2 linked regions of the Homo sapiens genome follow. The protein of the gene in region 2 purifies or fractionates together with the protein of the main gene of each other region. This does not show direct contact. Each region holds a gene or a part of one and is shown on either strand. Other genes may lie near its edges.

Region 1 (3,746 bases), on a different chromosome or scaffold from region 2:
TGGGTTAGTACAAAGTCTGGCCCAACATATGCTTACTTGTAGTTCTTCCTAATAAGTCAAACAAGCTCACATTTATGGTGCTGAATATATTCTAGATTCATTGTATCTGTAGTTGCTAAAAATTTAGTTCCATGCCTTAGGATGGTATTAGAATGTCCATGATAAGAAAAATAAGTGCAGCAAAATAAAAGAAATGCCACGCCTATCTTTCTGTATTATTTTTTCCACTGGAGAAGGACAGATTTTACTCATTAAAACTACAAAAGTCTGAGACCAACTGCTCCATATTCTTTTGTGTTCGTTAAATGTTGTTATTTGGAGGTGACTTAATTAGACTAAAGCTAGAAGAGAAAACAATAGAATGTCAAAGATGCTTTTCAAGTTGTAAACTAATGTTTTAAGTTATAAACTACTTGATACTATTTTCTTAATTAAAAAGATATTTCTGAATCGAAAAGATCAAAGCTTCTGAGTAAATTTAGAAAGCATTTTTTTGTCATTTACAGAAAAGGGCTTTAAGAGCCTATGTTCCTTTGGCTTTAAGAGCTCTTCACTGTGACTTCAAAGTAATCATTTTCAGATTAATAAACTGGAGCTCGTCTTTGGAATTATCAGTTTTTCTTTTATTACAGAATCTGAGGTTAGCCAGAATCCATCTGCAGAACATGAGGCAGAAGGGAGAAACACCTAACAAGGTGAGGCCTTCCTTAACTATTTTAACACAAGCAATTAACCATTTATACTCACTTAAAAGCAGACAGCTGGGATGATGGTGTCTGCTAAAAAAAAAAAGTGTAATGAAATGTTCTTTAGTTTTTTGATCTTTAGTAAAATTTCATCTTCGTATAAAATTTTATTAACCATTCCACTAACTTGTTACTTCTCCACTCCACCTCCCCACTCCCTTTAGAATCCTTAGTTTGAAGACATAATTCTTTAAATGATCTGTCTCAGGGAGGGGGGATCTTGTTACTTTTAAGGACTGCAAATAGCATTATAAACTTTGTTTTTATTTTTAAATACGAATATCGACTGAAGCTCTCAAATCAATCAATATTGTTGCCAAATTTTGTAAAACGCACTGTCTTAGCTCTCTAACGATAGAGTTCTAATATAAATGTAAAAACCAACCTATCAACATGTTTTCAAAAATACTTTTTGTAAAGAACAGTACAATTTTGTGGTGTCCAAATATTCCTTTCTTTCTTACAAAATATTATTGGATCTGTCCAGTTCATAAATATTCCTGCCCTCTCTTCCTCCCTCCCTGCCTCTCTCTCCCTGCAGTTTTTTTGATGTTTGTTCTTTTCTTTCCATTTTCTAGTTATTAATTGGTTCAATGGATGACCTTTGTGCGACACTGTTATACCTTATCAGCCTCGCCAGGGCCCCCGCGCCGCCCAATCCCAGCAACTCTGGTTCTCCTGTGACCCCAAGCCTTCCAGATCCCTGGGTTTCCCCCCACGGGACTGTCACATTCTTCCCCGCCGGAGACGCCAGTCGCGGGGCCTCCTCCCTGGGGTGTGAGCAGGTCGGCGCGCCACACTTCTCTAGGTGGCCGGACGCGCGCCCAGGGAGGAGCTGGCGGCGGGGCCCAGGCTGTTCCGGCTGCGGCACGCCAGGGGATGTGGTTAGCCCTGAGCCTGGAGGCCGAAGGTGGGCAGGCAACACTCCCACCATGTTTCGGAGGAGAATACACTAGGCTAGCCTAACGACACTCGGAGTGCGAGCTGCGGCTGGGGTAGGGGCACCCCTTTCCAGCGGGCGCGTGGGTCACCAAGGAGCAGTTCTCCGGGACCCGTTGCGTCAGAGGGACTGGGCGGGGCTGGGCGGGGCAGGACGGGGGCGGCGCTCAGGAACCCTGGAACCCGCTGGCCCTGAGGCCACGGACCGAGACGTGGTGCTGAGCCCCTGCGCGGTTTCTGGTGCGTAGAGACTGTAAATCGCTGCGCTTCTCAGTCATCATCATCCCAGCTTTTCCCGGCTCGAATTCAGCCTCCAACTCAAGCTCGCGGGAAAGACTACCTGAGAGGAGAAAAGCTTCTGTCCCTGGACCTTCTTCTGAGGGTGGTGAGGTTTGTTTAGGGTCGCAGAAGCAGGGAGGACTGACTCAGCCCTCACAGAGAAGAGGTCTGGAAAGTCCTGGGGAACTCGCAGGGCACGGGCCGCTGTCGCGGTTGGGAGGCGAGGGCGCAGCGCTGGGGTTGTAGATTCCAAGACCCCTGAGGGTGGCTGTGTTGGTTTCTCGCAGGAGTCGGAGGCTCCCTGCTTTCCAGCCGCCCAGTGACCCAAGCTTAATCTTCAGCACCACTTGGGGCGACCTTTTCGGTGCAAACCTACGATTCTGTTTCTCAGGATTCCTCCCCATCCCGCTTCGCCCCGGAAAAGCTGACAAGAACTTCAGGTGTAAGCCCTGAGTAGTGAGGATCTGCGGTCTCCGTGGAGAGCTGTGCCTGGAAGAGAAGGACGCTGGTGGGGGCTGAGATCAGAGCTGTCTTCTGGCCCAGTTGCCCCCATGCTTCTGTCATGGCTAACAGTTCTAGGGGCTGGAATGGTCGTCCTGCACTTCTTGCAGAAACTCCTGTTCCCTTACTTTTGGGATGACTTCTGGTTCGTGTTGAAGGTGGTGCTCATTATAATTCGGCTGAAGAAGTATGAAAAGAGAGGGGAGCTGGTGACTGTGCTGGATAAATTCTTGAGTCATGCCAAAAGACAACCTCGGAAACCTTTCATCATCTATGAGGGAGACATCTACACCTATCAGGATGTAGACAAAAGGAGCAGCAGAGTGGCCCATGTCTTCCTGAACCATTCCTCTCTGAAAAAGGGGGACACGGTGGCTCTGCTGATGAGCAATGAGCCGGACTTCGTTCACGTGTGGTTCGGCCTCGCCAAGCTGGGCTGCGTGGTGGCCTTTCTCAACACCAACATTCGCTCCAACTCCCTCCTGAATTGCATCCGCGCCTGTGGGCCCAGAGCCCTAGTGGTGGGCGCAGGTAGAGTATGGGGTGTGGTCTGCCTATACAGAATGGCAGCCCACCTGCTTTCATACCCTTTTTTTTTTCTTTAGGATAATTCGTAACTAATATTTTGGGTGAGTGAAGTGTGCATGTTAAGAGTACAAAATAGTTTTATGATTCTATGCTGGTTTAACAACTGTCTCCTCCCTTCAGGCACGTAGTTTCAGAAAACTTTTATGAAATCTCTGCTTCCTACCATTTTGAGACAGGGACAGTTTTACTGCTATTGGTTCCTTCAGTGAGTGCAAGAACACACAGAGAACTTGGTCACTTCTAAATTTTATCAGCTCTGACAAAATGGTGAATAGGAAAGTTATCTGACTTCATTGTGACACGTCTACCTACCTCTAATTGTACTTTATCAGGGATGACTACATTTGCAGAAGAGATATGTTTAAAGGAAGGTACCTGAATTCCTTTCTTCATGTCTGCTCTTATTTTATACTGTCTGCAAGCTAGGACTTGCCTAGCAAGGTTGCGCTCCCACCTGTGAGCCAGAACGTGGGCTCTTGGCAGACTCTAGGAGCCTTTCTGTTTCTTCTTCTTATCCTTCCATGCATCCTTTTCTTTTTTTGACTAAGTTCTACCCTTCCTCCTCCCCCTGCCTTGGAGTTAGGACATCTTAGGCTACACGTATTTTCACTGAACTGTAAAGAAAAGCCTGGGGTTTAGTGGCTAATTAGTAAAGAAGCTAGGAAGATGGGTTGCTTAATGAAATAGAAGTGA
Region 2 (3,746 bases):
CTTTCCTTGCAACTTTTTCATCGTTTTTTAAAACAACATTTATTCTCATATTTACTTATTTTCTCAAATGTTTGTTTCCTTTCTTCCTGCTCCATCTCCCTGTTCCTCAGATTCCTTTCCTTAGGAGAAAAAATTGGGGTATTTCCCACAGCATGCTGTGAGAAAAGTCTCTGAACTTCCTGGGGGTGGGACTTGTGAACACAGAGGGTCTTGCACACTATTTTATATCCAGCGAGTGTTCAGATTACAGGGCCAGGCCTCAGATACAGGTCCAGTTTGTGGAAGGCGGTCCCTGAAACATTATGAACACTGCTTTGCTCCTTCTGTCTCCTAGTCCCTCTTCTTAAGCTCAAACGTTATTAATTGGGAGTCTGTTCTGGGCTACTCATTGTACTGATTAAAGTAATTCACATTAATGGGCAATGACTGATCTACTCAATTCTCTTAGGGGAAGTCACATTTCTAAAATGTGCATATTAATCCAAATAAAACCCTGATTCATGAGATAAATGTAAAGCAAATGATTAACACTCTATTCAGGGTTTTCTGTCACAGAACAAAATATTTTCTTTTCTCTTGGGGCCCCAAAACAGCCTTCTCATCCCTTAGAAAGTGGGCTAGGACAATGTAAAATTGGACAGTAGAGTTGTGTGTGTGTACGTGTGTCTCTGTGTGTGTGCAGCACCTGTCACCTCATCTACACATCTCTCTAGCTCATGATATATGTTTCAAATCATGAACCAGAGACATTCATATATGAACATGGTTAAGACATATTCATTCTTTCTTTCTTTCTTTTCTTTTCTTTCTTTTTTTTTTTTTTTGAGACGGTGTCTCGCACTGTCGCCCAGGCTGGAGTGCAATGGCGCGATCTCGACTCACTGCAACCTCCGCCTCCCGGGTTCACACGATTCTCCTGCCTCAGCCTCCTGAGTAGCTGAGGTTAAGACATATTCTTAACGAGTAAGTTCTTTGTCTAGGATAATATTTTGTAATTTTCCACAGAATATTCTTCAGATGCCTAACTTGATGAAGGTTTTCAGGAGCCTAGTCTTAGAATCATAGAGGTTCTTGGCTCCTGGTTCCTTCTTAAATCCAATTGTTCATTACTGGAATATACAAATGAGTAGGGAGCCAGAAATGATAGGCACCAGAAACTGAGGTTTCCATTTCTCAATGTGGCCTGAACTAAATGAATTAAATCTCATCCTCCTATGGGACGTGAAGGAAAAGGGCTCTGGCTGGGAAGTACTGCTGTGCAGTGGTTAGTATAGTGGGTCTGAGGGTCAAATAGATTTGAGTGCAACTCCCAACCCAACTCCTACTACTAGCTTTGGGACCTCGGGTGAGTCACACAGCCCTCAGGTGCTACAGCTTCTATAAATAGTGATATAGTATTCTTACTTAAAGTGTGGCTGATCAGAGCAGCCCTTCCGTGGATCAACCACCCCATCAGAGGATCTATGTCTAGGATTGAGCCTTTTCTGCCCCAGGAGGTTCTTTCAGGTCCAGAGGCTTTCCCGTGGAGGGAAGAGAGGCAGCAATGAAATCAGCGTATAGGCGGACTGGGCTCTTTCCCCTTCATGTCTGCAGGGCAATGACCTCCTAGAGTCCGCTATGCACCCCCCACTTGCCTCTCTGGGCACTGCGAGGTGGAGCAGTTGTAGGACCAGGAAAAGCAAGAACAGAGCGTCCTCTTCGGCTACCCTACCCGGGAGTTCAGGCGCTGCGCCTGGCCCTCTGGGGCGTGTTTGACCATAACTCGCACCGCTTGCTCTTTTCCCATTTCAGCAAAGTCTTGAGCCTGTATTCTAGTACCTTTTATCAGCCTTGGGTAAGCAGCTCGCACGGGGTATATAAGGAGAATCAACTTTCTGAACTGAAAAAAATGTAAATAGTAAAGTCAGTCGTGCTTCTTCCTGCCGGTGACTGTTTACAAGAGGGAAGTCAGCGGGGCCCCCAAGAGGTCGCTGGTGGCGCAGGAACCGCATCCAGATTGTAAAGAACGGGGGAAGGAAAAAAAAAGAAAACACCCAGAAACTTTCTTCCTTGTTGCGAATAATCGCCGCCTCCCCCCCTCCGCCCCCAGCAGAAGCAGTAACGTGACACCCGAGCGAAATCCCGAGACCCGAGCGGAGAGGGAGGGGAGAGGGAGGAGAGTGCTGCGGAGCGCCGGAGGGAGAAAGGGGAGGAGAAGGAGGAAAACCCCTGTCAAGGAGGTGGAGCGAGGGGATGGTGTCCGCCTCCTGTTCCTCCCTGCCGTTTTTTAGAGAAGCCTGAACCGGGACAAAACACGCCGAGACCTACAGACACAAAGCCGGGGGGTCCACGCTGGCGCTGGAGGCGAGCCCCGGCGGCCGCAAGCGAGCCCGAGGCGCGGCGGGGCGCGGGGCGTGGGGACGCTAGCGGGCGCCGGACGGGCGCGGCGCCCCGTCACGGGCAGCGCCCCGAACCGGGGCCGGACACCTCGGCCGCTCGGGCCGCGGCGGCGGGGACCATGCCGAAGAAAGTCTCCTGAGCCCGGCAACTTCGGCCCCTCCCCGCCCCCACCCGGCTGCCCTCCGCGCGGCCCTCCCCATGTGCAGCCGGCCAGCCGGGCTCTCCTCCTCGCGGCGGATGGGTGACCTTTTCCTGGCACGGGCAGGCTGTGGGAGGCAGCGGAGCAGGCGATGAAGAAGAAGCAGCAGCATCCCGGCGGCGGCGCGGATCCCTGGCCCCATGGGGCCCCTATGGGGGGCGCCCCTCCGGGCCTGGGCAGCTGGAAGCGTCGGGTGCCCCTGCTGCCTTTCCTGCGCTTCTCCCTCCGGGACTACGGCTTCTGCATGGCCACCCTGCTGGTCTTCTGCCTGGGCTCCCTCCTCTATCAGCTCAGCGGGGGACCCCCTCGCTTCCTGCTCGACCTGCGGCAGTACTTGGGTAAGGAAGCTGGGCAGGCGCTAGGGCGGCGCCGACAGCGCAAAGTTGTGCGGCGGGGAGAGGGTCGCGGCGGGGACTTCTCGCGCTGCCACCGCGCGCCGCCGCCGCCCCGGGTCTCTCCAGGTGCTAAGCCCGTGAGCATCTGTGCCGCGGTCGGGAGCGCCTTCTTCCTCCCGCGCGTCCGACTGTCCTCACCGAGGCGGGGGCGCCGCTGGGTTGCGCTGCCGGCAGGTACCCCGGGGCGAGGCACCGCTCACCTTCCCCCCGCCCCACCTCCGCCACCCGGATCCGGACTGGGGCGGAGTGGATGGGTGTGTGGGGTGTGCCGGAGTGTGTGTATCTTCAGGCCTGGCGGCGCGGGGAGTGGCGAAGGGAAGGGAAGGTCCTCTTCGTTGCATTGTTAGTGACCGCAGTTCAGTCCCGTCCCGCGCCCCGGGGAGTGTGGGTGGGTTTAGCCCTTTGCCACCGTCCGCTCTGAGAATTCTGTCCCGCAGATCCCCCGCCTGCCCGCCGGCCCTAGTGGCTCCGCGCTGTCCCCGGGCTGGCTTGTCCCTTGGCTGCCGCTGCCCACCCCGCCGCCCGCAGCTAGCCTGGCGCGGGGAACGGGTTGCATCCAGGGGTTTGGGGATGCCCGAGGGCGCTGGTCAGCCTGGCCAGCAGTGTCGCCCCCAGTAACCCGAGGATCCTCGGCGCTGTGTGCGTCTCAAGCTCAAGTCAAAACTTGTGTGTGTGTGTGTGTGTGTGTGTGTGTGTGTGTGTGTGTGTGTGTGTGTGTGGTTTATTAGGAGAGAGGCCGCCTGTCTTTAGCAGAAGTAAGGAAGGGGTTTGAC

What was found. The genes of interacting proteins can lie anywhere in the genome.
Region 1: the proteins of UST (region 2) and SLC27A6 purify together in Homo sapiens (affinity purification with mass spectrometry; 3 studies listed by BioGRID and IntAct, with this or other methods). This does not show direct contact.

Annotation. Positions count from the first base shown.
Region 1 is NC_000005.10:128,963,623-128,967,368, forward strand, and holds the start of SLC27A6 (long-chain fatty acid transport protein 6), read left to right. Parts: upstream 1-1,865; 5' UTR 1,866-2,515; coding exon 2,516-2,996; intron 2,997-3,746. UniProt on the Homo sapiens protein: Mediates the import of long-chain fatty acids (LCFA) into the cell by facilitating their transport at the plasma membrane.
Region 2 is NC_000006.12:148,744,762-148,748,507, forward strand, and holds the start of UST (uronyl 2-sulfotransferase), read left to right. Parts: upstream 1-2,268; 5' UTR 2,269-2,669; coding exon 2,670-2,916; intron 2,917-3,746. UniProt on the Homo sapiens protein: Sulfotransferase that catalyzes the transfer of sulfate to the position 2 of uronyl residues in glycosaminoglycan chains. Has mainly activity toward iduronyl residues in dermatan sulfate, and weaker activity toward glucuronyl residues of chondroitin sulfate.